4 linked regions of the Homo sapiens genome follow. The protein of the gene in region 1 interacts with the protein of each later gene in a pairwise test. Each region holds a gene or a part of one and is shown in the gene's direction. Other genes may lie near its edges.

Region 1 (7,054 bases):
AGGAATGGTAGGAACCCCGTGGCTGAAGAGCTGCTTCCATGCTTCAACGATAGCTTGCTGCTGTCGCCTGTGGGGAGGCGAGGTGGAAAGCCCCACATCTCAGAGTGGCCAGAGAGGCAGATGAGGGGCTGCCTCGTGGCAGCCTCCCACAAGAGAGGGAGGAAAATGAGAGATGGCCATGCGGTCGCTCCTTGCAAGACTGCCCGTCTCCCACACCCTGGCAGGATCACGGGGAATTCCACCAAGGTGAGATCAGTCTGTGATCAGCTTTGCCTCCTTGGCCTCTGTGGACACGGACGGAGGAGCAAGGTTGTCAGGGCACCTGTGTGAAGCAGTTTCCCTACCTATGGGACACACAGCAAGTGAGGTCTAGAGCTGGGTTCCTCAACTCTGGCGCTACTGATGTTTCGGGCTGGATCATCCTTTGCAGGGAAGGCTGGCCTGTGCATTATGGGATGTTTAGTGGTATCCCTGGCCTCTACCCGATAGATGGCCTTCGCAGTCCCTCCCCTAGTCGTGACAACCAAAAATGTCTCCAGCCATCGTCAAGTGTTTCCTGGGGGCACAGTCACCCCTGAATGGTTGTGACTGTGACCGTTCTAGACCCAATTGCTGGTCTAGAATGCAGGGTGAGGGGGACGCTTACCTCCTGCACACTCTACCCTCTGTCTGCAGGTGGGTGGGCTTTGAGCATGCTGGCTTCCAAGGGCAGCAGTACATTCTGGAACGAGGCGAATATCCAAGCTGGGATGCCTGGGGCGGCAACACGGCCTACCCCGCCGAGAGGCTCACCTCCTTCCGGCCTGCGGCCTGTGCTGTAAGTTCTACCACTGCTGCATCCCGGGGAGGCCCAAGCCCCTCATGTGGGCACTTCGGAATCAAAGGTTCCAGAGTTGAAATTCTCATGTCGCCACTTCAAGCTGTGTGACAAGGGCTGTTCAGTCTCTTTCCTCTCCAAGCCTCGGTTTCTTCATCTTGAAATGGGGCAATAGTACCAATGTTCTTGGGAAGAAGAACGTATAACATCTGACCAGAGCCTGCCTTAAACTCTCTGCTCACAGCAACCCTGGTTGTGATAGGAGCCCCTGCCAGTTTTGTGCCCTTTTTTTTTTGTGATTCAGGGACCCTGAGAGAATCTGGGTACCAGGGATGGTAGGGCCAAGTGGAGAGGAAAGGTTTCATTTCTTGCTCCTAATTCAGCATCAGTGCTCCTGATCTTACATTTTACTGCTGTTTTTGGAGTGTGGGTGGAGGTGGGCATTATTATTCCCATCTCACCAATGAAAACATTGAGGCTCAGAAAGGTGTATTTTAGGCTGGGCATGGTGGCTCACACCTGTAATCCCAGCACTTTGGGAGGCCAAGGCGGGTAGATCACTTGAGGCCAGGAGTTCAAGATCAGCTTGGCCAACATGGTGAAACCCTGTCTCTACTGAAAATACAAAAAAATTAGTTGAGTGTGGTGGCACATGCCTGTAGTCCCAGCTACTCAGGAGGCTGAGGCAGGAGAATCACTTGAACCCGGGAGACAGAGGTTGCAGTGAGCCAAGATCGCACCACTGCATTCCAGCCTGGGCGCCAGAGCAAGACTCTGTCTCAAAACAAAACAAAACAAAAAAACAAAAACAAACAAACAAACACAAAAACAACAAAGTGTGTTTTATTTTTCAATTCTTATTGATTTAAAATGACATAAGTCACCATATTTACCATCCAAAATTCTGAAGGAAAATCCTGCTATGGTCAGGGTTGAGTATCCCTTACCTGAAATGCTTGGGACCAGAAGTGTTTTGGATTTTGAATATTTTCCCCAGATTTTGCAATATTTGTAATACTTACAGTTGAGCAGCCTGAATCCAAAAATCCAAAATCTGAAATACTGCAGTGAGCATTCTTTGAGTGTCATGTCGTCACTCAAAAAGTTTTAGATTTTGGAGCATTTTGGATTTCGGATTTTTAGGTTAGGGATGTTCAACCTATACATTTGTGTCTCTATGTATATACACATCCAAATCAACATCTACATCTATATCTGTATAATCTATATATCTTATCTATATTGCACACATAATTTTGTCATAAAATTGGAATCATAATGAATCTAAGGCTTGGAAACTAGCTTTTCTCACTGAGCAAATGTGTCGCAATCATCAGTCCAGGTGATTAAATCTCACTTCCATCGTTTTTCATAGCTCCCTAGTATTCTGTTTTGTGAATAAGTCCATTTGTTCATTTATTCTGCAAACAGTCTAGATATTGTGCTAATATAGGGACCCGTGGCGGGCTGCAACAGAAACAATCCCTCATTCCCAGCAGTTTGCAACTCCTGATTTCATTTAGTCCTCAAAAGAACCCTGAAAAATGGGTAGGGTTAGTTTCATTTTATAGATACAGGAACAGAGGCTCAGAAATCCTGTCTAACCTCAGTCAGTTGGTAAGTGGCAGCTGCCTCCTAGCAGGAAGGATTTGAGATGATATCTCTACACCTCCTTTCTTTCCTTCTTTTTTCTTTTCTTTTCTTTTCCTTTCCCCTCCCTCCCTCCCTCCCTCCCTCCTTTCTTTCTTTCTTTCTTTCTTTCTTTCTTTCTTTCTTTCTTTCTTTCTTTCTTTCTTTCTTTCTTTTTCTTTCTTTCTTTCTTTCCTTCTTTCTTTTTCTTTCTTTCTTTCTTTCTCTTTCTTTCCTTTTCTTTCTTTCTTTCTTTCTTTCTTTCTTTCTTTCTCTTTCTTTCCTTTTCTTTCTTTCTTTCCTTCTTTCATTCTCTGTCTTTCTTTTTCTTTCTTTTTCTCTTTCTTTCTTTCTCTTTCTCTCTCTCTCCTTCCTTCCTTCCTTCTCTCTCTCTCTTTCTTTCTTTCTTTCTTTTGATGGAGTTTTTGCTTTTGTTGTCCAGGCTGGAGTGCAATGCCACAATCTCGGCTCACTGCAACCTCTGCCTCCCAGGTTCAAGCGATTCTCCTGCCTCAGTCTCCCAAGTAGCTGAGATTACAGGCATGTGCCACCACGCTTGGCTAATTTTTTGTATTTAGTAGAGACAGGGTTTCACCATGTTCGTCGGGCTGGTCTTGAACTCCTGACCTCAGGTGATCCACCCTCCTCGGCCTCCCAAAATGCTGGGATTATAGGCGTGAGCCACCGCGCCGGGCCTCTACACCCTTTTTCTTAACCACAGTGTAATGCCTCAGCTTACCACTGGATCCCCAATTTTGGACATAAAAGTTGACTCCTTTTTTTGTTTGTTTGTTTTTGAAAAAACTGTTATGATGAACATTCTTGCAGCCTATTTATTCCATGATTATTTTCTTTGTGGAAATTTCTGGAAGGGCAAATGGCAAGGTTTCTGGTACCTGTTGCCTTATTGCCCTTCCAAAAGGTTTGCAAGGAAGGCTGATTTGGGAGACAAGGGCAGGGAGTGTGGAGGCCAGGAGAGGCTCCTGGGTTTCCAACTGGGAGCCTGCTGGTCTGACTGTGTTCCCTGTTCCTGTAGAACCACCGTGACTCGAGGCTGACAATCTTCGAGCAAGAGAACTTCCTGGGCAAGAAAGGAGAGCTGAGCGATGACTATCCTTCCCTCCAGGCCATGGGATGGGAAGGCAATGAAGTAGGGTCCTTCCACGTCCACTCTGGGGCGTAAGTGTATTCAAGGCTCTACCTGGCAGGGGAGGGGCTACTGGGAGGGGTAGGTGTACCTCCTGTGAAAACTGTGTGCTGGGGACTTTTGTGCTCTGATGCCCACATTCCAGAGGAGAACACTGAGGCACAGGGAGGTATCAGGCAGAATTTGAGGGACTGAAACCCAGATCAAACTGGTTTGAGCCCAGAAGATATTTATCAGCCCCTGTAATTAGCTTCAAGCATAGCTGGATCCAGGTACTACAGCAGGTATCTCTCTCCCCCCACAACCCCCAACCTGTTGCCCTGCCTGCCTCTGTGTGACTATATTCTTAGACAAGCTCTTCCTGTGTGAAGGCAAAGGTGGCGGCTTCATCGTTACATCCAGCCCTAGGGAAAGACAGTGTCCAGGCTCAGTGATTCTATTAAAGGTTCCAAGAAAGGTGCTCATTGGTCCAGCTGGGTCCTGTGCTCAACTCTGAACCAATCATCATGCCCATAGGAATGGGGTGTTCTGATTGGCTAGGTTTGGTCATGTGGTCCATTGCTAGATTCAGCCTCATTTTCTCACCTTGGCTGAGAGTGAGAGGCCACAGGCTCTTTGGCTAGAAGAGGGGAGAATGAATGCCCCTAGCCATAAAACACAGGTGTGGCTCCAGCAACCTGCTCAAAGTCCATCAGCAGGTAGGTAACAATCCAGCTTCAAACTCAGCACTGACTGGCCCTTTCCTTTCCACCCAGGAGGTGGCAGGTGAAGGCTAAGGTGTGAGATTCTTATTTAGGGAGGACATCAGAACCACTTTCTGAGGTGCCCCTTGGCTCCTGGTAGGCAGGGGGCAAAGATGGGAGGTAGGGTTTTTCATCTTTTTTTTTTTTCTTTTTTTGGCTTTAGTTTTCTCAGGAACCACCAAAGAATCATGTTGTTTTAGAGTAAGAGGGACCCCTTGTGATTCTTGAGTTCACTTCCTCTTTTACAGAAAGGGAAATGGAGGCTTGGAAAACCAGACACCAATCCTTGTCCTGAACAGAGTAGAAATCAATGAGTTGGGCCAGACACGGTGGCTCACGCCTGTAATCCCAGCCCTTTGGGAGGCTGAGGTGGGCGGATCACCTGAGGTCAGGAGTTCGAGACCAGCCTGGCCAACATGGTGAAAGCCCGTCTCTACTAAAAATACAAAAAATTAGCTGGGTGTCGTGGCTATGCCTCTAGTCCCAGCCACTCGGATGAGGCAGAATTACTTGAACCCAGGAGGCAGAGGTTGCAGTGAGCCGAGGTCATGCCACGGCACTCCAGTCTGGGCAACAGAGTGAGACTCTGTCTCAAAAAAAAAAAAAAAAAAAAAATCAATGAATTGAAATGATAGCTTTTTTTCTTGGAAGTGCCTCTGGATAAGGAAGGAGGGAGAAAGGGGAAAGAACAAGACTTCCCATTCCTTCACTTGTTCACTTATTCAGCAAATATTTAGGAACCCCTTCTTCCTTGCTAGACTTTTATATATTTATGCAGGTGGTGATAACGATGAACAAAACATACACGTTCCTACACTCAGGAGCTTGCCTGCTGGCAGGGGAGGCTGATATTTTACAAATAATTTGAAAACTATCGAATTACATGAGTGCTACAAAGGTATAATAAGGGACTGTGGCCTGATTTGGGGAACGAGTCAGATTGCCCTCATAATTAAGATGAGCCATGAAGGACAAATACAACTTGTCTAGGAAAAGAAAGGCTGGGATGGTGCTTCTGGCAAAGGGAATGGCATGATCAAAGGCCCTGTGGTAGGGGAGAGAGCATGGCACATTGTGAGCACTGAAGAAAGGCCAGGATGGCTGGAATTGTGTGCGTGTGCATAGATCCCTTTGCCCCTGTGTTGATCACCATGCTGGTGTCTCTGTAGAGTAACTGTCTGCCTTTTCTCTTTTCCAGCTGGGTTTGCTCCCAGTTTCCGGGCTACCGAGGATTTCAGTATGTGCTGGAATGCGATCACCATTCCGGTGACTACAAACATTTCCGGGAGTGGGGCTCTCATGCCCCGACCTTCCAGGTGCAGAGCATCCGCAGGATCCAGCAGTGAACAGGGGTGCGGCACGGAGGAGCGCATGCGTGCTTATCTGCAATGGAGGCGCTCTGGAGGCTGTGGTGTGTTCTCTCCTTCTGCCTCCCCCTGTAACCTGTGTGAACCCAGCACCCATGTGAACTGGTCCGTGCACAGTCAGCACAAAAAACTCAAACGAATAAAAAAGAGAAAGTCTGGTATTAGTTGTGCTTTTCAATTTTATTAATCTTTTCAAAGAACCGGTTTTTAGCCTTGTTTTCTCTATCATTATTCCACTGATTTTTACTCTTAACTTCAGTATTTCCTTTCTTCTATTTACTTCAGGCCTACTTTGTTCTTAGTTTTTCTAGCTTTTTTTTAAGGCAGACTTCTGGGTCATTAATTTTAGGCCTCTCTTTCCCCCACCCAGTACGGTCATTTAGCTATAAATTTCCCTCCAAGTATGGCTTTAGCTGCTTCCCACAAATATTAATTTGATGTGTTTTCATTGTCATTCAGTTTGATATTTTCTAGTTTCACTTGTGGTTTTTTTTTTTTCTTTTGACCTATGGGCTATTTAAAGGGATGTTATTTAAATTCCAAATACTTTAGGATTTTCTAGGTGTTTATTGTTATTGGTGTGTTTTTAAAGACCAATGTGGTCGGAGAACATATTCCTTAAGATTTAAGTCTTCTGCAATGAATTAAGACTTATTTTATGGCCCAGCACATGGTTTTTGTATTTTAATTTTATTTTTTGTTTGTTTGTTTGTTTTGTTTTTAATGAGTCAAGGTTTCACTCGTCACCCAGGCTGGAGTGCAGTGGTGCAATCTTGTCTCACTGCAGCCTCGACCTCCCAGGTTCAAGCAATTCTGCCTTAGCCCCACAAGCAGCTGAGATTACAGGTGTGTGCCACCACACCTGGTAATTTTTGTATTTGGTAGTGACAGCGTTCGCCATGTTGCCCAAGCTTGTCTTGAACTCCTGAGCTCAGGACATCTGCCTGCCTCAGCCTACCAAAGTGCCAGGATTACAGGCCTGAGCCACTGCTCCTGGCCACATGGTCTATCTTTGAAAGGCTTGGTAGTACACTTGAAAACTATTTATATTCTGCAGTTATTGGGTACAGTGTTCTGTAAATGTCAGATCAAATTTGTTAACAGTGTTGATGCGATTTTTCTATACCCTTGCTGATTTTTTTTTTTTTTTTTGAGACAGGATCTCATTCTGTCACCCAGGCAGGAGTATAATGGCACAATCATAGTTCACCGCAGCTTGTTTTTAAAAAATCAATTTTAGTGAATTACATAGAAAGAATCATTGATTATTTGGATTTATCTGTTTCTTACCTTAGTTTTGTCTATTTTTGCTTCCTGATTTTTTTTTTCCTTCAGGAATTGTGATGCTCTG
Region 2 (8,801 bases), on another chromosome or scaffold:
GCCGAGACGAGTGGATCACCTGAGGTCAGGAGTTCTAGACCAGCCTGATCAACATGGTGAAACCCCGTTTCTACTAAAAATATAAAAATTAGCTGGGTATGGTGGTGGGCGCCTGTAGTCCCAGCTACTCGGGAGGCTGAAACAGGAGAATCGCTTGAACGTGAGAGGTGGATGTTACAGGGAGCCACGATTGCACCACTGCATTGCAGCCTGGGCAACAGAGCAAGGAAGGTCCCCAAATATTAAAGCACACAGAAAAGGGGTTTTGCTGTAGCTGTTCTGGAATTGGGTGAATTTGAGCAACTAGGTTATATATATATGTATTTTTTTGTTTTTGTTTTTGTTTTGAAACGGAGTTTTGCTCTTGTTGCCCAGCCTGGAGTGCAATGGCACGATCTCGGCTCACTGCAACCTCTGCCTCCCGGGTTCAAGCAATTCTCCTGCCTCAGCCTCCCAAGTAGCTGGGATTACAAGCGCGTGCCACCACGCCCAGCTAATTTTTTGTATTTTTAGTAGAGACGGGGTTTCACCATGTTGGCCAGGCTGGTCTCGAACTCCTGACCTCAGGTGATCCACCTGCCTCGGCCTCCCAAAGTGCTGGGATTACAGGCATGAGCCACTGTGCCCAGCCATATATATATATATATTTTTTGAGACGGAGTCTCGCTCTTTTGCCCAGGCTGGAGTGCAGTGGCGTGATCTTGGCTCACTGCAGCCTGCGCCTCCCTGGTTCAAGCGATTCTCCTGCCTTGGCCTCCAAGCAGCTGGGATTACAGGCGCCCGCCACCATGTCCTAATTTTTGTATTTTTAGAAGAGACGGGGTTTCACCATATGAGACAGGGTTTCACCACATTGGCCAAGGTGGTCTTGAACTCCTGACCTCAGTTGATCCGTCCGCCTCAGCCTCTCAAAGTGCTGGGATTACAGGCATGAGCCGCCACACCTGGGCCTAAGTTGTATTTTATGTGCACTAGGAGAGTTGGCCATTAAGAGAAGCCCCGTGCTAAGTCATGTTGTAGTCTCAGTAGTCACTCCTCAGTTGCTCAGATTTTTACATACTCCCTTTCTTTTGGTCAGTGGGTAGGGTTAGGGGTAGGCTAAGGATGGGCAATTCCAGGCCTTTCCCCTCTGTATCCTGGGAACCTGAGATGCGGAGGTGTGAAAAAATATGCCTGACAATGTCAGAGGAGAGGGATGGCATGGAATGGGAGGCAAGGTAGGGAGAGAGCATTCCTTCCTTGGGGGAAGAGAAAGAGCTGGGTTTATAGTTATAATGCATTTTCTTTGTAGGAAACTTTAGAAAATTTAAGATAGATGAAAGAAAGACCAAGCCAGCTGCAGTGGATCACGCCTGTGATCCCAGCACTTTGGGAGGCCAAAATGGGAAAATCAGTTGAGGCCAGGAGCTTGAAACCAGCCTGGTCAACATAGCAAGACCCCGTCTCTACAAAATAAAAATTAAAAAATTAGCTGGGCATGGTGGTGTGTGCCTGTAGTTCCAGCTACTAGAGAGGCTGAGGCAGGAGAATTGCTTAAGCCCAGGAGTTCGAGGCTGCAGTGAGCTATGATCACACTACTGCACACCATCTTGGGCGACAGAGTGAGACTCTGTCTCAAAAAAAAAAAAAAAAAAAAAAAAAAAAAAAAAGACCAAAATCCCTTGTAATTTCACTACCACAGATAACCACATGGAACCTTTCAGTGTAGTTTTATTTCTTTTCATAAATACACATGTACATTTTAACAAAAATACGGATACACTGTATACAAGGTTTGTAACCTCCCTTTTCCACTTACCAACTTGTCCTGAAGGGAGAGTTTGTTTTCTTTTCTTTCTTTCTTTTTTTAAATGGGATATCGCTCTGTTGCCTGGGCTGGTCTCGAACTCCTGGGCTCAAGCGATCCTCCCCTCTCAGCCTCCCAAGTAGCTGGGACTGCAGGCATGCACCACTGCACCCAGCATGAAGGGACAGTTTGAATTTGGACAGGGAGCCGATGGTGAGAGCCCAGGATGGCAGAGGGAGGCCTTACTGCTAACAAAGACTAGTGTAATCCAGTTTGGCCAGAGGTGGGAAGGGCACGTGGGAGGACCAGTGGAGGTCAGATCAGGGAGGGAAATCAAGGCCAAATGGTGCAGTGCCTTAAACGGCAGATCTTGGGGTTTGGACTTGATTTCTCATGATGTCGTCACTAGGAGTTACTGCAGCTTTTGGAGGGAAGCCAGGCTTGAGGAGGGTTGTGCCTGGGGATGAATGTCTGGCAGCAGTGTGTGAGGTCAGCTGGAGAGGGTGAGGCTGGAGGCAGGGAGGCCCGGCTGAGAGCTACTGAGGGCCAGGTTCAGATCTGCTGCCCAAGGGGGATCAGGTGGGATGGGATGAAGGGTCAGAGATGCCTCTGGGAAGAGGTTCTGGAGCCATTGCTGGATCCTTTGGAGCCACAGGCAGCCGTTCTTCCTGGGCAGGAAGGAGCGCTGTCCAGCTTCTGATTTCTAGGCCTGTCATCTGTTCAGTCTTAACCCAATTACAGTAGAAAGAATGAAATTAATTTATTTGCTATTTTGAGCTGGGCATGGTTGTCCATGCCTGTAATCCCAGCACATTGGGAGGCTGAAGCAGGTGGATCACCTGAGGTCAGGAGTTCAAGACCAGCCTGGCCAACATGGCGAAACTGCATCTCTACTAAAAATACAAAAAATTAGCCAGGCGTGGTGTTGTGTGCCTGTAATCCCAGCTACTCAGGAGGCTGAGGCAGGAGAATCACTTGAACCTGGGAGGCAGAGGCTGCAGTGAGCCAAGATTGTGCCACTGCATTCCAGCCTGGGCAACAGAGTGAGACTCTGCCTCAACGAAAAAATAAAATAATTTGCTATTTTGCATTCATTTCTTTGTCCAGCAAGTACTTCTTAAGATCTGTGATGTGCCAGGGGCTGTGTTGATGGGAGCAGAGCGGGCATCCATATTTTCATCCCTTTCCTCTCCCCAGGTACGGAGATACAAGGGCCTCATGGACTGTGCCAAGCAGGTGCTGCAAAAGGAAGGCGCCCTGGGCTTCTTCAAGGGCCTGTCCCCCAGCTTGCTGAAGGCTGCCCTCTCCACAGGCTTCATGTTCTTCTCGTATGAATTCTTCTGTAATGTCTTCCACTGCATGAACAGGACAGCCAGCCAGCGCTGAGTGCAGGAAGGACCCCAGGTCTTCCCTGGAGGCAGCCTCCTGAAGGAAGGAAGATTCAGTCTCCACTGAGAGGTGCCGTCTGGCCCTTCCCTGCAGGCCAGCTGCCCCAAGCGGGGTAGCAGCCTTGAACCCACCCAGCTGGGACACCACCAGAAGGTCCAGGGCTCTCCCCATGAGAGAATCAGAGGGAATGCAGGACGTGGTCTATGGTGAGCCAACGACACAGTGAGAAGGAGCAGGAAGTTGCTGTTTCTCCTCTGACCAGCCCACACTCCAAAGGAAACAGACGCCATCCTACACCTATCAGCCCTGCCTGCCAGGAGAACAGAACACACTCCTGGTCTGGATGGGGCTGCTGCTTGAGTGCAGAGGGCTGCGGTAGGCCCTTTGCAGGAGTCAGGTCCCTACACTTGGCCTGTTTTTCCAACCTATTTAATAGACATTAAAGCTAAACACACATTCCTTATCTTACTCCATCTCCCCTGGCACATCTGCCTACTCACAAAGTATGAGGGAAAGGACTCCTGCCTTCCTCAAATCCCATGTTCTCCATAGCGGCAGCCCTTGGCAGCTCTGCTTCTAGTGCTGGGGGAGACTCCAGGCTGAGCCAGTCACTTTCTGGGCCCCGTGCCCAGACCTTCGTGTCTGCAGACACACCACCACCCAGGCTGTCCTCTCCCAGGACCGGGCTGGTCATGGCCGTGGGGCTCCATGGAAAGCAGATCCCAGCGCCCGTGCAGGAAGTGGATGGGCCATGCTGTGGGCAGGCGTGGGTGAAGGTGCAGCCTCTCCCCAGTCTACCTCACTGACTCCTCTTTCACCCAGAGCTGGGTCAGCCTTGCTGGGTGAGGAGCTATCAGCAGGACAGGTGGCATCAGCGCCCACTGCCTGCTCCTCAGTGCAGAGCATGCTGCGGGTGCATCCTCCCCTGTAGCCCCAGAAGGGCCGTGGCTCTGAAGCAGCCCACTGATGGGGATGGCAGAAGGAAGGGGCGGGCACGTAGCCTGGTGAGGGCACAGCTGGTGCCTGGGGTGTTACCAGAGCAGAGGGACACCCACAGGCGGAGAGGCAGAGGAGAAACCAGTTCCAGGCTGAGGGGAGGTCTCCAGAACATGACCTCCACCCTTCCCTCCATCTGCCCGGCCTGTAGGGTTGCTCCGACCTGGGAAGCCCTCCATTCTGCCTCCCTCTCCAGCCTTGGAAAGAGGCACCCACTGGGAGCCGGCGCTGGCCCTGGCCCTGGCGTGTGGGTCCTGGGCTCCTCCTCGCACCATCCTTCCCTGCCTCTGGTCTGGGATTTTGGGGTCTGTCTGGGCCCTGAATGCTGGGGCTTCCTGGCTCTGGGCTGCTGGTTCCCAAGGTCCAGGCTGCGGCGGGGGCCACGAGGATGCAGCTGCCTGAATGCATTTTTTATGAAATTCCGTTAAAGTTTCTTCTCTTCATCTTTCCTGCCCATTGGTTTCTTTTGCTGCAGCTGAGCGTTCTCTTCCTCCTCCGTTTTCGGTGACCACTTTGGCGGTTCTTTTAAAAGGAGGCGAGAACGCGGGCAGCGCCGGCAGCGCTCCTCCCGGTCGCGCGGCAGGAGCGGCGGCAGTTCTTCCCCCACTTCTAGGTGCCCTCCTGTCACCCAGGGCAGACGCCGGGCGGTGGGGTCCGCGCCACTTCAGGGGCATTCGCAACAACCGACGGCCGCGAGTTGCCAATGGGGCCCCTTTCTCGGGGCTGCCCCTATGACCTGAAACTCGCTTCGCCCATGTCCTCCTTGGAGCGGGAGAGGGTTGTGGCTGGCCCCGGCCCTGCAGCCCCTGCCTTCTCTACCTGGGTTGGGGGAGCGGGGAAAGTGGTGCGACCAGGGCTGATGCTGTTCCTCCTGCCACCAGGTCCCCACCACGCGCTCTGCAGGCTCTTCCCACGCCGCGCAGCCCAGCGGTGTCTCCCGGCCCAGTGCACCTGAGCTCCGGGGAGGGCTGGGTGCGGGGCCACGCGCAAGATCGAGGTGCCGGCGGGTCCGGCGTGGGCCCGGACACGGCCCAGGCGCACCGGGTGAAGGGGTGACGAGCCAAGCGAGTTCCGCTTGCGGCTGGGTGGCAGCGTCGCAGGGTCCCACGCAGGCGGCGCGGCTTCCGGGGCGGCCTGGAGGCCAGGGCAGTGCCCCGGGGGCCCGGCAGGTGGCGCGGGCGAGCCGACCCTTCCCCGGCGCCGCGCGAGGAGATGAGCTCACGGCGGGCCCCGCAGCGCCGGACGCTGGTTGCGCGCTCCCAGGCGCCGAGCGGCCCCGGGCACGCGCGCGCGCCACCGGCCCGGCAGGTGGGTCCCGGCTCCCACGCCGCCTCTCCCGCCCGCGGGACCCTGGGCCGTGGGCTCCGCAGCCCGCCCTGTGCCTCCGGGAGGGGCGTTCCGGGCGCGGGGGGAACGGCCGAGGGCTGGAGACCCTAAAGGCGCCTCCTACGGCCAGAGGGGAGCCTCCGGCGGGAGCCACCTCTCCGGGGCGCATCATCCTGCCCCCCAGTAAGAGGAAGGCTCCAGAATGGAGCTCAGGAATTAGGAGTCTCGAGTGCGTAGGGCCGGGTTACTGCCACTCGGGAGCCGATCCGACCAGCCTGTCCCAGGGAGAAGCTGGCACGGGTCTGGGGAGTTCAGGCTGCTCCCGGCAGGGGCGGCGGACAGGGCGCCTGCGTCCCCACCCACGCAGGCCGGCCCCATCCGGGGGATGCAGCGGCGGGTGTTGAGACCGAAGGACTCGGCGAAAGCCAGAAAGAGAGGGTTGGGGAGAGGGGCTCGGAGACCTGCTGGGGACAGAGTCGCACCGCTTGGAGTTCCCAGCCTGGCCCTCACCCGGCATCTTCCTGGGCCAGCAACGTCAGGCCGGTTTATTTAAGCAACTGTAACGTCCGCCCGCACACACCCTGCCCCAGTCTACTCCTGCCTCCTGCTGGGACTGGAGGGTGGGCGCTTTCCTGCTTCAGCTTCTCGCTCTTGTGTAATCCCACAAGCGAGGGATTTCTAAACTGAGCAGCAGGTGCCTGGCTGATGCCCAGTCCCCACCAGAAGCCAAGCCTGGTGGGCCTTCAGCCAACCACCGCACGCCACGGACCGCCCAGGAGTCCCTGTCCCGAGCGCGCCGTCAGCCCCGTCCAGGGCCTGCAGGACGGAACCCGCCCTGCGCTCCACACCTGAGGCCGCTCCCTTCGCCTCTTCTCCTCAGGTGCTGTCCTTATTCCCAGCCCAGTCAAGAGCTACCGGGGCTGGCTAGTCATGGGGGAGCCCAGTAGAGAGGAGTATAAAATCCAGTCCTTTGATGCAGAGACCCAGCAGCTGCTGAAGACAGCACTCAAAGGTGAGCACGGGACCCCTCCTGAGCTGGGGTCAGGAGCTACAGAGAAGGGCCCCTGTGGGCAGCACCAGAGGCTGAGCCTGGTGAATGCCTCCACCCCTCCCCTCATTCTCTGACGATAGGAGTCGGCAACGTAATTCTTGAACTGGAAGACAAGCTACATTGAGGCCATTATTTTGGAGTATGAATCACAGTCACCTCTCAGACTGTAAAGACTGTTTTAAAAGTTTAACCATAGGGCTAGGCGCAGTGGCTCATGTCTGTAGTTCCAGCACTTTGGAAAGCCAAGGTGGGCAGATTGCTTGAGTCCAGGAGTTCAAGACCAGTCCCGGAAACATGGTGTAAACCCCATCTCTACAAAAAAAAAAAAAAAAAGAAAGAAAAGAAAAATTAGCCGGGCATAGTGGCAGGCACCTGTGGTCCCAGCTACTTAAGATGCTGAGGTGGGAGGATTGATTGAGCCTGGGAGGGTGAGGGTGCCATGAGCCATGATCCTGCCACTGCACTCCAGCCTGGCTACAGAGCGAGACCCTGTCTCAAAAAAAAAAAAAAAAAAAAAAAAAAAAAAGTTTAACCATAAAAAAAAGAACACGGCTCCTGCCCTTGAAGCGCTTACATTTGAATTGCTGGTTTCTGTGCTGCCATAGCCCCGTCTCTTGAATGCACAGTTGCCTGCTTTGAGACAGAAGATGGAGAATATTCCGTTTGCCAGAGGAGCTATAGTAATTGCTCTCGCCTGATGCCTTCCCGCTGTAACACGCAGTACAGAGGTTTGTCTTCAACTAATAATTAGCAACACCCATCATGTGTCAAGCCGAGCCTGTTGGGAGGCCCTATGTGGCCCTCTCTTGTTGGGGGTTTGCATGTGTGTAGTATAAGAACACTTTTTCTTGTGAAATTGCTGTTGGAGGCATGTCCTGGTCAGTATTCCTTCCTCAACCTAGTGCCAGGAAAAGATGTGTTTCCTGAGAAACTACATTCTTACTTTGATTGGTCCCTACTAGCCACATAACCCTCCCCATTTTCTCTGACTGGGCAACCAGAAGACAAGACAGCTAAAGCTGTTTGTATGGTTACTGTCCTCTGTACGGTTTCTTTTCCCTTTTTTTTTTTTGAGACAGTTTCGCTCTTCTTGCCCAAGCTGGAGTGCAATGGCACGATCTTGGCTCACTGCAACCTCCGCCTCCCAGGTTCAAGCAATTTTCCTGCCTCAGCCTCCCAAGTAGCTGGGGTTACAGGGGCCCGCCACCGTGCCCAGCTTATTTTTTGTATTTTTGTAGAGACGGGGTTTCATCATGTTGGCCAGGCTGGTCTTGACCTCCTGATCCTGACCTCAGGTGATCCACCCGCCTCAGCCTCTCAAAGTGCTGGGATTACAGGCATGAGCCACCACACCAGGCCCTCTGTATGATTTCTTTTATTTTTTTCTTTTTTTTTTTTTTTTTGAGACGGAGTCTTGCTTTGTCGCCCAGGCTGGAGTGCAATAGCATGATCTCGGCTCACTGCAACCTCCGCCTCCCAGGTCCAAGCGATTCTCCTGCCCTAGCCTCCCAAGTAGCTTGGATGACATGAGATGACGCACGAGCCACCACACCTGGCTAATTTTTGTATTTTTGGTAGAGATGGGGTTTCACCATGTTAGCCAGGCTGGTCTCAAACTCCTGACCCCAGGTGATCCAACCACCTCGGTCTCCCAAAGCGTTGGGATTACAGGCATGAGCCACTGCGCCCGGCCATGATTTCTTATAAGTACCATGCGCTAACCAATTGCACCACTGGAGCCACTGTCCTCTGTATGATTTCTGATCTCTTTCACTTCAAGCATATGAGTGCTCTACTGTAAATATCTCAAATTCTTAGAAGCGGGTGGACACAAATGTGATAAAGCAGCAGCTCTAGACTCCCCTCCTATCTCTACCCCTAGATCCGGGTGCTGTGGACTTGGAGAAAGTGGCCAATGTGATTGTGGACCATTCTCTGCAGGACTGTGTGTTCAGCAAGGAAGCAGGACGCATGTGCTACGCCATCATTCAGGTTGGGGGTTGGGAGAGGAAAGGAAGCTGCTTTGAGGAAGGTGCTTCAGGAGTGGGCAGAAGGCCTGGCCTGCAGGACAGAGATGCACAGGGTCTAGCTCAAAGAGAGAGAGAGGCATAGGATGGGTGGGGTTACAGGGGCACCGCCCCCCACCCTTCACCTTCCTCTCCCTGGCTCACAGGCAGAGAGTAAACAAGCAGGCCAGAGTGTCTTCCGACGTGGACTCCTCAACCGGCTGCAGCAGGAGTACCAGGCTCGGGA
Region 3 (7,163 bases), on another chromosome or scaffold:
GCCAGACCCTGCAAACCTGGCCCTGGATCTTCTCAAGTCTCCATTGCCCATAGGCCTCCTCCCCTGTGTCCACACCTGGGGTTTCCCCCTGAGTTGGTATCACAGGACGTGATGTGGCCCCGGGGAGAGAACATTAGTGTGGCTGCCCTCACATGGCCAGGATGGGTGAGGATCAAGTCATAACCACCCTTCCAGGGAGCTGCTAAGACTTAGGGCCATGGCTTGGGGCTCCTGGTGCTCACTGGCCTTGTGGGGGACCCACTGACTTTCAAGTGTAGATGTGGATGTGGGACCAGGGTTGCTATGGGGCAGTGGGCTCAGCTCTGGGCTCTGGGATCCACAGGAGATGAACAACTACCGGCGGGCCATGCAGAAGATGGCAGAGGACATCCTGTCTCTGCGGAGACAGGCCAGCATCCTGGAAGGAGAGAACCGCATACTGAGGAGCCGCCTGGCCCAGCAGGAGGAGGAAGAGGGGCAGGGCAAAGCCAGTGAGGCCCAGAACACGGGTGAGGATGTGCAGGCCACCAAGGGCACCCGGGCTTCTGCCTGGGCCCAGGCTCCAGGTTGTGCAATAGGGTGGCTGGGAGCTTCTCCCAGATGTGCATGCTGCTGGACTCTGGCAAATAGGAGCCCCTCGCCCACAGACACTCACACAGTCCCTGCCCAGCTGGGTCCTCTCAGGGATGGGAAACAGAGAATCCAGTCCCGTCCCAAGCCCTCGGGCCAAGGGATATCTGCCTTCCTGCTACTGACCATGCTGATTTGAGCTGGGAGAGGCTTCCTCCCTGAGCCAGCTCCCCAACCCACCTAACAGTGTCCATGAAGCAGAAACTGCTGCTGAGTGAGCTGGATATGAAGAAACTGAGGGACAGGGTGCAGCATTTGCAGAATGAGCTGATTCGAGTGAGCTGGGGCTTGTGGGGGCAGAGGGGAGGGAGCTATGGTGGGGGAGCATCGGGGTGAGAAGAGTCTGGGAGGAGAAGGGAGAACAGGCACAGAGGGAATGGAAGCACGGAAGAAAGGGGGACCAGCCTGGTGGAGGATTCAGCAGAGGGGCCGAGGTGGACCCTCAGGGCCAAGGTGGACTCCCAGGCACCCATTCTCTCCCCTTCTCTCCTCCCCCATCTCACAGAAGAATGATCGAGAGAAGGAGCTGCTCCTTCTGTATCAGGCCCAGCAGCCACAGGCCGCTCTGCTGAAGCAGTACCAGGGCAAGCTGCAGAAGATGAAGGCGCTGGAGGAGACTGTGCGGCACCAAGAGAAGGCAGGTGGCAGAGGGGCTGCCCCCGAGGCCAACTGATGATGGCAGAGTAGGGAGCCCCTGGGCCAGCCCAGCCTCTGCTCTGCTCTCCAGGTGATCGAGAAGATGGAGCGGGTGCTGGAGGACAGGCTGCAGGACAGGAGCAAGCCCCCTCCTCTGAACAGGCAGCAGGGAAAGCCCTACACGGGTGGGTCCACACCCTGATGTGATCAGCTCCCCAGCTTCTGCTCCACCCCTGGAGGCCCTGCCTTCCTGGAGCCTCTCAGCTTCAGGAGAACCTGCGAAGAGGTCCCCTGCACTCAGTTATGTCTGTGGGCCTGGGAGACCCAGGATTGCCCTGCTCCCCTCCTCATTCAGGCGCCCCATCCAGAGATCCCCTGAGCTCCCTCCTTCCCTGGAAGCCCCTCAGAACACAATTGGGATGCAGTGTGAGCCAGGCTAGAAAGAGGGTGGACCTCCAGAGGAGGGCCCTGCAGACTAGCACAGCAGAGAGGGCCTTCCCCTGAAGAAGGGCCACCTGGGGCAACACTTCCCAGCTCCTAGCCCCAGGATCCGTCGAATTATTTCCCCATACCGCCAAAGATTCTGCCTCTGCAAAGCAAACAAACAAAAATACTTTGATTAAATCAATGATCTGGGGCCAGGCGCAATGGTTCATGCCTGTAATCCCAGCACTTTGGGAGGCCGAGGAGGGCAGATCACTTGAGGTCAGGAGTTCAAGACCAGCCTGGCCAACATGGTGAAACCCCATCTCTACTAAAAATACAAAAATTAGCTGGGCATGGTGGCGGGCACCTATAATCCCAGCTACTTGGGAGGCTGAGGCAGGAGAATCACTTGAGCCCAGGAGGCAGAGGTTGCTGTGAGCCAAGATTGTGCCACTGTACTCCGGCCTGGGTGACAGAGGGAGACTCCGCCTCAAAATAAATAAATAAATAAATGATTTGGAGGTTTTCTTCCCCATCGATATTAACCAAAAGCCACCTAAAACTGCCAATCAGCCTCTGATAAGCAGAAAGGACCAGGTAACACCATATCAGGCCAGCCCAAAGCAAGGGATTTCCCTGAGCCTGCCTGTGCAACCTCACCCAGGGCCCCTGTGTGCCCAGCCCTGTGCTTAGCCTTCACCGCTGAGGGTCTCAGGGGCAGGAGGGTGTTTCTAGGAGCCTTTAGAATGCAATGAAAGCTGGGCTGGCCTTTCAGGAAGCCTGAGGTCATCCAGGAGTCTGGATGAGACTGAGAAGGCAACCTAGGGAGGGGAAACAGCCAGATCAAAGGCCCAGGGAGTGAGAAGAATTCCAGGATCAGAGAAGGGAGGAAGAGAGAGAGGTGAGGAGCTGAAATACACTGAAGACAAATGAGGAGTTAGAGAGAACGTTGAGGTCAGGTTCTAAAGAGCCTAGAAGGACAGCCTGTGTGCACCTGATCCCACTGGTGGTAGGGAGCCATTGAAGGCTTGGGAGTAGAGGGGAGGGGTGGCAGATTGAAGCAAAATGCTGGAGCAGATCAGGACAGGGACATGGGAAGCAGGAGAGCCCATCTCACCAACATCTGTGGCCGTGTCTCTAGGCTTCCCTATGCTCTCAGCCTCTGGCCTTCCCTTGGGTTCTATGGGAGAGAACCTGCCGGTTGAACTTTACTCGGTGCTGCTGGCAGAAAACGCGAAGCTGCGGACGGAGCTGGATAAGAACCGCCACCAGCAGGCCCCCATCATTCTGCAGCAACAGGCCCTGCCGGTAAGAGGCCCTTGACCTGGGCCTGCCTATGCCGGTCACTGGGTGCCCAGAAATCACCCATGGTACAACCCAAGTTGAAGATCAAGACCAGGAGCTAAGCTTCCCAGGGTCTCCAGTCTGCCTGGGGGCTCCTGGAATCAGCTCTCAGGCCTTGGTCTTTTTCTCCTGCGGAATGTGTGTCCCCGAACACTTCACCTTTAACCTCATCTAGCATCCCAGGAGAAAGCAAGCCCCTTGTTGACCCTTGGTCCCTGAACCCTGACCCCTTTTTCACCTGGCTGGCCTCCACCTGGACCCTACACAGGCCTCTCAAAACTCCCTTCTGGAGCATTCCCTGGTCTTGGTGCAGCCTTGGAGAGCCCTTTTCCATCCCAGGTGGACCCCGGGGAGTTGGGAGCAGGAGGAGACTTGACAGAGAGGCTACAAGAGACGCATGGCCCAGGCCACTCAGAGTGCACAGAGACCCTGCCCGCACAGGTGGGTGGCCCAGGGCCCAGAAATGCCCAGGCCCTGCTCCACCTCTGAAGATGCTTCAGGGGCCCCTTGCTTTACATAAACCCCAAAGCAGAACATTTGGAATCACAGAATATTGGGCAGGGCAGGGGCACAGGAGAGTTTTCTCTCCATCCCAGGACTCGCCGGAGGTGAGTTCTGTTGAAAGCACACCTGACTCATGGACATCCAGGTAAAGTGTGAGGGATGAGGTCAACTGCCTCACAGGTTCTTCACTTCACTCAAAGACTCCCAGTGCGTTAATTATAGGGGGCTCCCTAATGCATTTTACATTAAAAAAAATGTTGTGTCAAAACTTCGTATTCTCAAAATCTGTGTGGGAAACAGCTGTGAAAAAAGCACATGCCAGACCCTGTTCTGAACTTCCAGAAGAGGGTTCGGCCCAGGTCTGACGCTCTGCCTCGGGAGCTCAGTCTGAACTCAGGCCTGACTGGTTTCTTCCTCAATACCTTATGGTTTCCCAAGCTCACACTGCCACAGCCTCCAGCTGGGGCCAAATGTGAGTTTGTGCTTTGCCCACAGGATCTCCTCTCTGGTACTTCAGACAAGTTCAACCTCCTGGCCAAGCTGGAACACGCTCAGAGCCGGATCCTGTCCCTGGAAAGCCAGGTGGGTGAGATGCAGGAGTTGATGAGGCTGGATCAGGCTCACCACACAGCCTATAACCAGGGCTCAGTGTGTGAGCAGAGTCTAGGCTCAATCTATGACCAGGATCAAGGCTTAGTGTGTGGCCAGGGTCGGGGTTCAGTGTGCAACCAGGGTCAGGGCTCAGTGTACAACCAGGGTTAGGGTTCAGTGTGTAACCAGGGTCAGGGTTCAGTGTACAACCAGGGTTAGAGTTCAGTGTGTTACCAGGGTTAGGGTTCAATGTGCAACCAGGGTCAGGGTTCAGTGTACAACCAGGGTTAGGGTTCAGTGTGTGACCAGGGTCAGGGTTCAGTGTACAATCAGGGTCAGGGCTCAGTGTACAACCAGGGTTAGGGTTCAGTGTGTGACCAGGGTCAGGGTTCAGTGTACATCCAGGGTCAGGGTTCAGTGTGTGACCAGGGTTAGGGTTCAGTGTGTGACCAGGGTCAGGGTTCAGTGTACAACCAGGGTCAGGGTTCAGTGTGCGACCAGGGTTAGGGTTCAGTATACAACCAGGGTCAGGGTTCAGTGTGCAGCCAGGGTTAGGATTCAGTGTGTGACCAGAGTCAGCGTTCAGTGTGCAACCAGGGTCAGGGTTCCGTGTACAACGAGGTTAGGGTTCTGTGTATGACCAGGGTTAGGGTTCTGTGTATGACCAGGGTTAGGGTTCAGTGTATATCCAGGGTCAGGGTTCATTGTGTGACCAGGGTCAGGCTCTGTCTATGACCAGAATCAGGGATCAGTGTGGACTCAGGATCAGAGCTCAGTATGTTGTTGAAATGTCCATCTGTGTCTTGGTCAGGCTGCCTGACTGTTTGGCCCCCTCACCCTCACCCCGCCACCCCTGAGGTCTCGGGAAGGTGTCAAGCCCACATGGCCCAGAGCTTTGCTTTCTGCCTGGACAGCAGGCTCAGGCCCTGGTTGTCCTGGCCATCAGGGATTAGCCCTGCTGCCCATGGTCCTCCAATTGTCCCTCTCTGTGTCTGCAGTTAGAGGACTCAGCTCGACGCTGGGGACGAGAGAAGCAGGATCTGGCCACACGGCTGCAGGAGCAAGAAAAAGGTTTCAGGCACCCCTCGAACTCCATCATCATAGAACAGCCTGTGAGTGACCCCCCTGGAGTAGCTCCCAGGGGTTCAGGTGGTGGAGCAGGAAGCCACCGCACCCCCAAAGTCACTGGGCCCTGAGAAAAGCCATTGTGGAGCCAACTCCAGGGCTGGGGGTCAGGAGTCCTAGGCTCCCATTCCTGCTCCATTACCAACCGAAGGCTCGGTCTTAATTCCCCCACCTGTCTAAGGGGAACAGAAAACCCCTGCCAAAACTACCCTTTCCCCCATGGGGTGCTGTGAAACTCAAGGAGATGACTGTGGATGAGGGGTCCATGCAGGCATCTCCAGGATGCCCTGACACTGTGCTTTAGGACTGGCTGCGCTCATGGGCAGAGTAGCTTGTGGCCCTACCCCCCTGAATCCATAGAGCCTAAGATTCTCAAATTAGCACACCCTTCTCAGATGGCCACGATGTAGGCTCCACTTTGCCAACTTCCCGAGAACAAACAGGCCTGCTCACAACTGCCCCTCAAGTTCAACCCCGGGACCGCCCAGCCCCGCAAAGCAAAGACCCTGACTTCTCCTGCTCTTGAGCCAGCTGTGCTTTGCCCGTGGCCAGAAGCTCAGCAGCGGCTCCTGGGAAAGGCCTGGAAAGGATGAGGGAACAGGCAAGGAACAAAGGCAACCTTTGCACACTCACCTGAGCCCTGGGGACCCTTGGAGAAATTAGGTGTCACCTGCTGTGGCAAAATGGGTTTAGAAATCTTTGCCAGGTCATGGCCCACTGGATTCTGGATACTCTGAGGCCTGGTTTGTCAGGCAATATGCCCTTGAGCAGGTCACCCCCTGGGAATGGGGGGTACTCACGCACCCCGCTTTGCACACCACAGAGTGCCCTCACCCACTCCATGGACCTCAAGCAGCCCTCAGAGCTGGAGCCCCTGCTGCCCAGCTCAGACTCTAAGCTCAACAAGCCCTTGAGCCCCCAGAAGGAGACCGCTAACTCTCAGCAGACCTGAGCCCCAGAGCAGGCCTCCTTCCCTGTGTGCTGGGGAGTCTCATCACCGCCCCCTAAAAATGACGTTATTAAATGTTGTAGCTCTGTGAGCATTTTCCTCTTTCCTGGAGCAGGGCAGCCTGGGGGCCCTGCTTCCTCCTCCTAGACCTCACTCTGGGCCTGGGCCTGGGTCTTCTGCTGCAGCCTTACAGCCTCCCGCCTGCCCCAGGAGCCAGCATCTTTGGAAAGCCAAGGGCCACAGTGGACCCAGGAGGGTGGAGAGAAGAGGCCTTCCAAAGCAGGGGCCAGGGAGACGGGCCCCTTCCAGACCCGGAGAAGAAGCAAGGCCACCAGAGACCAGCTCTGTTGGGAAATACGAGGGAGGCTTGTCCTTTTCATCTGCCCCAAAACATCTATCATGTCTGATATTCCTTCTTTCAAGTTTGGTTTGTCTGTCTCTTGGAAAGGGAAAGACTTGGAGGCTTGAAGCCTTCCTGTGGCAGTCACGTATCATTGTGAAATACTCCATTAAGCCACTAGGCTGAGCTGGCAATGATGTGTCCAAATGTAGCCGGGGCAGGAGAGCAGATTGGGCCAGGGGAAAGGAGGCACCTACAGGGAGTCAGGAGGCCCAGGTTCTGGGGGCAAACAGGCTGTGTGACCTCAAGGGACCCAAGCAACCTCTCTGGACTTCAGTTTCCCCATCTATTCCATGTAGAGCTTGACCTCATTGGCTGTAAGCCTCTTTCCAGCTATAACATTTCTGAGTCAAAGCTGACTCAGGACCAGAGAAGAAAAAGGACACAGGAAGGAAAGACAAAGACAACAGGGAAGAGGATTTTGTGGTGGGGAAAGCAGAAGGGCTCCAAGAGTGGATCCAGATCCCACAGCTTCGGGCAGGAGAGGCCAGGCCAGCTGGACCACTGGCCTCAGCTGGACTAGCTCCCCCACCTGCCTGCAGGACTTAGACTTGGATA
Region 4 (8,318 bases), on another chromosome or scaffold:
GGGCTAATTCTGTGATTCATATCTTGGTCTCTAGCATGCCAGGGATGCCCACTGTGGGTCCCCGTTGAACACAGTTACTCTACACTTTGATTAAGCACTCTTAAGACTCAGCCACACTGATAGTACATGTTTGATTAAGACACACATTCCAAAGGATACAGAGACATAGATCATAGTGCTCAGTGTGTGATCATCAACATCTGTGAATCTCTTCTAAAATTATGAGTTTGTCACCACATACATCTTCAAATCTTCCTTTTTTTTTTTTGAAACAGTCTTGCTCCGTCACCCAGGCTGGAGTGCAGTGGCGTGATCTTGGCTCACTGCAACCTCCTGAGTAGCTGGAATTACAGGCGCGCACCACCATGCCCAGCTAATTTTTGTATTTTTAGTAGAGAAGGGGTTTTGCTGTGTTGACCAGGCTGGTTTTGAACTCCTGGCCTTAAGTGAATCACCTGCCTCAGCCTCCCAAAATGCTGGGATTACAAGTGTGAACCACCGTGCCCAGCCCAAATCTTTAAAATCTCAGATTCCTCTGAGCTCAGAGCAATTTTAGGAAGGTGAATTTACTGCAATTTCCACTTGCATTCTGCTAAATCCATGCATCCAGTTTGAATCCATAAAGTTGGACTCCATTAAATAAATCATCCAGCAGGGTGCAGTGGCTCCCGCCTGTAATCCCAGCACTTTGGGATGCCGAGGCAGGTGGATCACAAGGTCAGGAGATCGAGACCATCCTGCCCAACATGGTGAAATCCTGTCTCCACTAAAAATACAAAAATTAGCCAGGTGTGGTGGTGTGCGCCTGTATTCCCAGCTACTCAGGAGGCTGAGGCAGAAGAATTGCTTGAGCCCAGGAGGCGGAGGTTGCACTGAGCCAAGATAGTGCCACTGCACTCCAGCCTGGGTGACAGAGGGAGACTCCATTTCAAAAAAAAAAAAAAAAAATTATCAAAATTTAAAATGTTTGCTCTCAAGAGACAGCATTAACAAATTGGAAAGACAAGACAAAGACTAGAAAGAATGTTCGAAAAATGTAAATCTGAAGAGGACTTGCAGGAAGACTATTTTTAAAAACTCTTACAACTAATAAGACCAAAAAATAAAGAAATGAACACAAATTTGAAATAAAATATATTGATGGACAATAAGCATACGAAAAGCAAAATTCAACATCACTGGACATCAGAGAAATGTAAAATAAAACCACAGTGAAATACCACTTACACACCCACCAGAATGGCTAACATTGTAAATTACTGACAATACCAGAAGTTGGCAAGGATTTCAGGCAAATTGAATCTCACATATTGCTGGTAAGAACATAAAATAACACACTCACTTTATAAAACAGTTTGACACTTTCTTATACTGTTAAACATACCCCTACCATATGACAGCAATTTCACTCCTAAGCGTTTATCTAAAAGAAAACATATCCCAGCAAAGACTTAGAAGTGAATGTCCGTAACAGATTTATTCATAAACAATCCAAGTATCTATTAAGATGTAAACAAACAAATCAGGGTATATACATACAATGGAATACTACTCAGCAATAAAAAGGAATGTGTTTCTCATACACCTAATAACAAGGATGCATCTCAAGCAACATGCTGAGTGAAGGAAGTCAGACCCGAAAGAGTATTTACTCTATGATTTCATTCATATGAACTCCCACTGCAAAAAGGCTGCAGGAGAACAAGGTTGTAAACAAGGAGACCAATTAGGAGGATGTTGCAATAATACAGTTGGAAAATGGTGGTGGCTTAGACCAGAGTGGTTGCAAAAGAGGTGATGAGAAGTGGTTCCATTCTGGATATATCATGAAGGTGAAGCCAACAGAATTTCCTGAAGGATAGAATGCAGGATATCTCAGAAAAAGAGAAATCAAGGATGACTCCATGGTCCTGAATCTGAGCAAATAGAAAGATGAAACTGCTTTAACTGAGATGGTGAAGGTGGGTGGAGTAGGTTGGGGGATGATAACAGCAGTTGTGTTCAGTTTGAAACATCCATTAGATGTCCAAATGAAGATAGCAAGTTGGCAGCTGGATATATAGGAACAGTTCCAGGCTGGAGATATAAATTTGAGAGTTTTCACCCCATTTTTCTGGAAAAGTGGCTGGGAACAGGTAGAAAGAGTTTAAGAGAAACAGGAAAAACCATGTGCACAGATCTTCTTACTGTACAAAAAGTAAAGATCCATTTAAAAAAAATCTGGAGGTCATTAATGACTTGGGGGAAAACACTAGAATTTTGATAGTAAAAATATTTGATACAATTACCAAAACTCTGTATACTCAAGTAAGGTTTAGGGAGGGTTGTACACCTCCCCTCTGATCTTGTCCAATACTGTGTGGCTTGCTACCAAACTGGCAATGTCTAGGTAACCCACACTGGATACCCCAGAGATAAAGAGAGCAGCTTCCACCTGATAACCTCCCTCTCCTGCAGTCGCTACCACCCTCCCACCTTGAGTCAGCAGGAAAGGAAAGGAGCTTTTCCTCTCCTCCTGAGCTCTGCCTCCTGCTCAAGGACAGAGTCAAAGTTTTAACCCCTTCAGTTTGTAAGTTTTCTCATTCATGAAATTGTATTTGGCCATTTGCTTCTTAGAAGACAGCTGCCTTGGAAGCAAGCTATTAGTATGACTTTAGAGTTGGAGCCTTCAGAGGTAACTGCAATTTGTGTGGTATGATTTGATAAAAACAGAAAAAAAGATTTTTCTCTCCAGATTCCTGAAATTCCACTATGAAAGGTGAAAGTGAAATGCCCAACTTTGAATGAGCAGTATTGGAGATTTCACTAAGTCAATAAGTGAAGAAAAGAGAAGCTATAGATGAAAAAAGAAACCCATAAAAAGGGAGACTTTTTATTATATATTGACAAATTATAGTTGTATATATTAATAGGGTACAAGGTGTTATGATTTTTTAATACAATGTGTAATAATTAAACCAAGCTAATTAATATATCCATCACCTCAAATATTTGACATTTTTTGTGATGAGAACATTTGAAATTTACTCTCTTAGTGATAATGAAATATACAGTACTCAATTATCAGCTTTATTCACGACACCGTGCAATTGAACTTTAAAAAAATCAAACTTTTCCTCTCTTTTTTTTTTAGATGGAGTCTCACTCTGTCACTCAGAGGGATGATCTCAGCTCACTGCAACCTCTGCCTTCCGGGGTTCAAGCGATCATCCTGCCTCAGCCTCCCGAGTAGCTGGGATTACAGGCACGTGTCTAATTTTTGTATTTTTAGTAGAGATGGGGTTTCTCCATGTTGGCCAGGCTGGTCTTGAACTCCTGACCTCAGGTGATCTGCCCACCTTGGCTGCCCAAAGTGCTGGGATTACAGGCATGAGCCACTGCACCCAACCCTTATTCATCCTATCTAATTGAGGCTTACACTCTTTGACTGTTATCTCTCCATTCCCTGCAACCCTAGCCTCTGGTAACCACCATTCTACTCTCTGCTTCTATGAGTTCAATTGTTTTAAGTTACTTTCAGATACTTGAGAACATGTGGTATTTGTGTTTCTACATTTGGCTTATTTCACTGTGCATAATGTTTTCCACTTCCATCCATGGTGTCACAAATGACAGAATTTCTTTTTTAAGGCTAAATAGTATTCCACACATACACACAGACACATAAAATGGAATACTATTCTCTTTTAAATTTTGTATGCCTAATAATTCATGGTTAAAGGACAAGATAATAACTATTTTTGAGTATCCCGCTGTGGAGACACGATCTCCTTTGATCCTTGCAGCAATGTGTAAGGTAAGTGGCATCATCTTCCTTCTATTAATGGTAGAACTGAAGATCAAAGAGAGTGTCTAACTTGCTTAGGGCTACATAGCCAAGTGGTGAAGCTAAACTCAGTCTAGGCTTACTTGATAGTACACTAACATTAAATGTCTAGGAGTAAATATCTAAAACAAACTGTAAGTCTTCTCTATTTACCATACAAATTATTCAAGTGAACTGCCATTTTTGCCTGGCTTGAAAGATACTTTTCAGAAGAATGGGCTCATATACACATGCACGCGCGCACACACACACACACAATGGAATACTATTTAGCCTTAAAAACGCATATATATCTAAAATATATGTGTGTACATATTTTATATATATATGTGTTTATATATATAATATATATTATATTTGTATACACACACACATATATGCCACATTTTCTTTATCCATTTATCCCTTGATGGACACTTAGGTTGATTCCATATCTTGGCAATTGTGAATAGTGCTGCAATAAACATGAAAGTACAGACGTCTCTTCAACACACTGATTTCAAATCTTCCCAGTAAATACCCAGAAATGAGATTGCTGGATCATATGATAATTCTACTTTCAGTTTTTTGAGAAACCTCCATACAATTTTCCATCATGTTTGTACTAATTTACATTCCACCAACAGCATACAAGCATTCCCTTTTCTCCATTCTTGCCAACACTTGTTATCATAAAGGGAGGTTTGAGAGACCATAAAACAAACCCCACCTCACAATTTTGTTAGTGCAAGTTCTATTTGGCCTATTCCCAACACTAAGCACACAGTAGGTGGCAAATATTTGTTGAATGGATGAATTCTCATTTTTCTCCATTTGTGGAAGCAGACACCTCCTCAAAAAAAAAAAAAAATCCGAAAGAAAAGGTAAAGGAAACAGTTCTATGAATGGGGGTTAATTTACTCTCCTAGCATTCACTTATTGGGAAAAAAAGTAACAGCAGTTTCTAGAACCCTCTGGTCTCTGAGGGAGATGCTGTGTTCCCCTCCTCAGAGAAGAAGAAAACGCACTAGAGAGTGGGAGCATCCCCAAGGCTGAAGCGCATCCAGGACATCACATGTCAACGTGTCCTCTCTGGCGTGGGGTCCCCGCGAGTCTGGGAAACGAGGAGCTGGCAAGGGAGGGCAAGCGGGGGCGGCAAAGAGGGCCCCTGGAGCAGGGGGCGCGGACCTCGCTGCGCTGCGCGCTCTACCGCCGGGCTCGCAACGCTGGGCTCAGCGCTCGCGCCTCCCTCAGCTCTCTCCTCCGCCCCCCTTCGCCCTCCCCCTTTCCCTCCCTTTCTCCTCCTCCTCCTGCCGCCGCGGCCGCTGCCGGACTTCGCCAGATCAGACCCACGGGGCTGCCCTCCCCTGCGCACTCCCCTCGCTGCCCGGGCCCGGAGCGCAGCGCGGCCGCACAGGTAGGAGCCCCCAACGGGGGGTCGCCCCGAGCGAGCCCAGTACTCACTGGGCCGCGCGCGGGAGAGTGAGGTGGGGTGAGCTGAGGGGTGTTGAGTACCCGAGAACTGCCCTGGACTGTGCAGGGTGTCTCGGGCAGAGAGGGAGGTGGAGGTGTGCAGCCTCGGAATGCGATCTGTCAGCAAGTGCGAGTACTCGGGTGACATCTGTTGGGATGGGCATGTGTGTGCGCGCCGACAACCAGCCGGCAGGGCTTTGCCCATAAACGTGGTTTTGAAAGTTTAGGGGACCAGTGTGCGAGATTTAAGCCGCACCTGGATTCCATAGGAGCTGGTTAGAAGCTGGGACGCTGAGCAGCTCCAGGGGACCGCCGCGTTAGCTTGCTGTTAAGAAAGGGGACCTCATCTCCCTGCCGGGCCAGGCCGCCCGCCCGAAACTGGTACCTTGGGCTGCGGTGCGATCCCTGGTTCCGGTCCTAGGCAGCCTGAAACCGAAGGTAGCGTGTCGGGGACCCAGACTGATAAGACAAAAGAGAATCAGTCGCTTTGGGCTGCCCCTCCACACAACCTGGGACTTTTAAACAAAGCTGTGCGCAGAGAAAGGCGTGGAAATGCCACTTTGAGAGTTTGTGCTGGGGGATGTGAGAAGCTCTGAGACATGTGAGAAGGTCTAGTATTCTACTAGAACTGGAAGATTGCTCTCCGAGTTTTGTTTTGTTATTTTGTTTAAAAAATAAAAAGCTTGAGGCCAAGGCAATTCATATTGGCTCACAGGTATTTTTGCTGTGCTGTGCAAGGAACTCTGCTAGCTCAAGGTGAGTATACTGGGAAAGCCTTAACGTTCTAGAGAACAGAGTTTTGCAGCCCCACCTCCATCCCCCGGGGTGTGGGACTGGGGGGCAGGAAATGCACCGTCCCCTTTGAAATGGATTACTGTTTTTTCCTTTCGACCCCCTCTTTCTGCAGCCTGCTTTGTAGGTGCAGTATAAAATGCACGCTGAATGTCTTTTGTATGTAAACAGCGTAGCAGGATGGAGTAACGTGAAATGCAATTCTACAGCAGTTTTTACGTCTTTGCTGCCTCGTTCGTTGGCTACCGAGAAGGTTCAGGAGGGGGAGGGGAGATGAGAAAGCAGATTGGAAGTTGAGTATGGTGGAGCCTCAGCCTCTCCCACCCTCCTTTCCTCGCTTGTGCTCACTGCTAAAGTTTTGTTACTTTCCCCGCAGCAGATACTAAACATTAGTTTGTCCTGTATTTTCTTTGAGATTCACAATGTTGAAAGCCCTTTTCCTAACTATGCTGACTCTGGCGCTGGTCAAGTCACAGGACACCGAAGAAACCATCACGTACACGGTAAGGGGTGATGGAATTTGAAATAAGTACGGTTCAGCGGGATTCTGTGACAAAAAAAGACTTTACACACCCCTGCCAGTGTATTTGGGCTATACTCTGCTGAGGGTGATAAATTAAACAACACTTCATTCATGCTTCATATCTAAGATTCGTTGTAAATTGCCCCCTTGATCCTTTCAAAAGTTCATTGGGCTCACCACCTAAGATAGGAACCAACATGTAATCATTTGTGCAGGGCTAAAAATGGGATCCGTTCAAAAACTAAAACCAAAGAAAGTTACATGTTTCCAAAACATTCAACAAATTAATGGGTGTAAGGAACTGGAAAACCTGGACTCCTACCACATGCAGATAAAACCAATACGTGCAGAATAAGACTCAAGTCAAGTAAGAACGTTAAACACCATAAAGACACATGGCCTTCTTTGTGTACATGACATGCATTCTCAAGTAAGTGGCCTTTATTGAATTTATAAAGGCTATATATTCATTCTTTTTGTATAACTTGATAATTCTAATAAATAAAGGCAGACAACAGTTTATGTGTTACCAGGATGCATATTGGCTAAAGTGGTTTTAAAACGTAATGTGTGCAACTCCGTTTTGCATTTTCTAATTAGCGTCTCTGATATTTCCAAGTAATATTTGATTAGTTAGTTGCATAGGTGTAACCAATGTTTAATAAAATATTAAAAAGATCACCTGACCCCTCCCACTGCTACAAATAGTTGTGGTGAGAACAGAGAAGGACAGTACTGACTTCACTTCTGGTGAGTTTGTTTGCACCTCTGTTCTGTGTTTTCTTGTCTTTAATCAGTGTTAGGCAAATGACATTTGTCCTGGATTGGAATATGAAAAGCACATTTTTCTACTGCTCCCAGTTTAAAATTAAGTAATCCTACTCGAAAGAATGTGAAAAATTTTTGAAAAGAAAACTCTTAAAAATGAACTAATGTCAATTACTGATAATAAACATTATCTCACTTTTTGGTACCACATTATCCCTAGAATGTTAGTATTCATCTGGCAAATGTTCCTTTCTGTTGTTCAGATCCACTATAAATAAAATAGCTTAATACAAATATTTTGTTAACTTCATGTTAAATGCAGTTGCTTCCTCTGCTGAAGATAAATTAAGCAAGAAAAATGAAGGCATGTGCTGTTTATCTTAAAATGAAAATGTTTTGTTATTCAGACTAAACTTACTGCCTTCTCAGGGAGCTAAAATTAAATTCACTACCCACTTTTATAATCATCTCATAAAAGATTTTACTTCTTTTCCAGTTGCTTATCTTCTATGCCCTTCCCTTTGCTAATCACCTAAATCTTCCTCATTTTTACCAGAGAAGGTTCCCTGTGGCTTAAACATGATAGTTTTAAGACCACTAACTAGGGTTCATTATTATTGTAACAAATTTTCCAGATATGTTACCCTTTTGTGCTAAGATTGGGCCTATTCTCCTTTAAATTTTGTATGCCTAATAATTCATGGTTAAAGGACAAGATAATAACTATTTCTGAGTATCCCGCTGTGGAGACACGATCTCCTTTGATCCTTGCGGCAATGTGTAAGGTAAGTGGCATCATCTTCCTTCCACTAATGGTAGAACTGAAGATCAGAGAGAGTGTCTAACTTGCTTAGGGCTACATAGCCAAGTGGTGAAGCTAAACTCAGTCTAGGCTTACTTAATAGTACACTGACATTAAATGTCTAGAAGTAAATACCTAAAACAAATTGCAAGTCT

Evidence for each region.
Region 2: the proteins of CRYBA4 (region 1) and MIF4GD interact in binary tests that used the Homo sapiens proteins (3 or more experiments, as listed by UniProt).
Region 3: the proteins of CRYBA4 (region 1) and CCDC33 interact in binary tests that used the Homo sapiens proteins (3 or more experiments, as listed by UniProt).
Region 4: the proteins of CRYBA4 (region 1) and EFEMP1 interact in binary tests that used the Homo sapiens proteins (3 or more experiments, as listed by UniProt).

Annotation. Positions count from the first base shown.
Region 1 is NC_000022.11:26,624,806-26,631,859, forward strand, and holds the end of CRYBA4 (beta-crystallin A4), read left to right. Parts: intron 1-675; coding exon 676-817; intron 818-3,482; coding exon 3,483-3,625; intron 3,626-5,534; coding exon 5,535-5,682; 3' UTR 5,683-5,864; downstream 5,865-7,054. UniProt on the Homo sapiens protein: Crystallins are the dominant structural components of the vertebrate eye lens.
Region 2 is NC_000017.11:75,267,822-75,276,622, reverse strand, and holds the start of MIF4GD (MIF4G domain-containing protein), read left to right. Parts: upstream 1-5,391; 5' UTR 5,392-5,479; exon of another isoform or gene 5,480-5,726; intron 5,727-5,900; exon of another isoform or gene 5,901-6,056; intron 6,057-6,377; 5' UTR 6,378-6,427; coding exon 6,428-6,509; intron 6,510-7,153; coding exon of another isoform or gene 7,154-7,276; intron 7,277-8,430; coding exon 8,431-8,540; intron 8,541-8,721; coding exon 8,722-8,801. Other genes in the region: SLC25A19 (mitochondrial thiamine pyrophosphate carrier), read left to right, coding at 2,984-3,172. UniProt on the Homo sapiens protein: Functions in replication-dependent translation of histone mRNAs which differ from other eukaryotic mRNAs in that they do not end with a poly-A tail but a stem-loop. May participate in circularizing those mRNAs specifically enhancing their translation.
Region 3 is NC_000015.10:74,329,846-74,337,008, forward strand, and holds the end of CCDC33 (coiled-coil domain-containing protein 33), read left to right. Parts: intron 1-343; coding exon 344-509; intron 510-817; coding exon 818-906; intron 907-1,135; coding exon 1,136-1,267; intron 1,268-1,357; coding exon 1,358-1,451; intron 1,452-2,833; coding exon 2,834-3,000; intron 3,001-3,375; coding exon of another isoform or gene 3,376-3,477; intron 3,478-4,035; coding exon 4,036-4,122; intron 4,123-5,129; coding exon 5,130-5,243; coding exon of another isoform or gene 5,244-5,327; exon of another isoform or gene 5,328-5,651; coding exon of another isoform or gene 5,652-5,666; exon of another isoform or gene 5,667-6,079; coding exon 6,080-6,208; 3' UTR 6,209-6,296; downstream 6,297-7,163.
Region 4 is NC_000002.12:55,920,615-55,928,932, reverse strand, and holds the start of EFEMP1 (EGF-containing fibulin-like extracellular matrix protein 1 precursor), read left to right. Parts: upstream 1-5,150; 5' UTR 5,151-5,222; intron 5,223-5,993; 5' UTR 5,994-6,034; intron 6,035-6,485; 5' UTR 6,486-6,492; coding exon 6,493-6,573; intron 6,574-8,318. UniProt on the Homo sapiens protein: Binds EGFR, the EGF receptor, inducing EGFR autophosphorylation and the activation of downstream signaling pathways. May play a role in cell adhesion and migration. May function as a negative regulator of chondrocyte differentiation.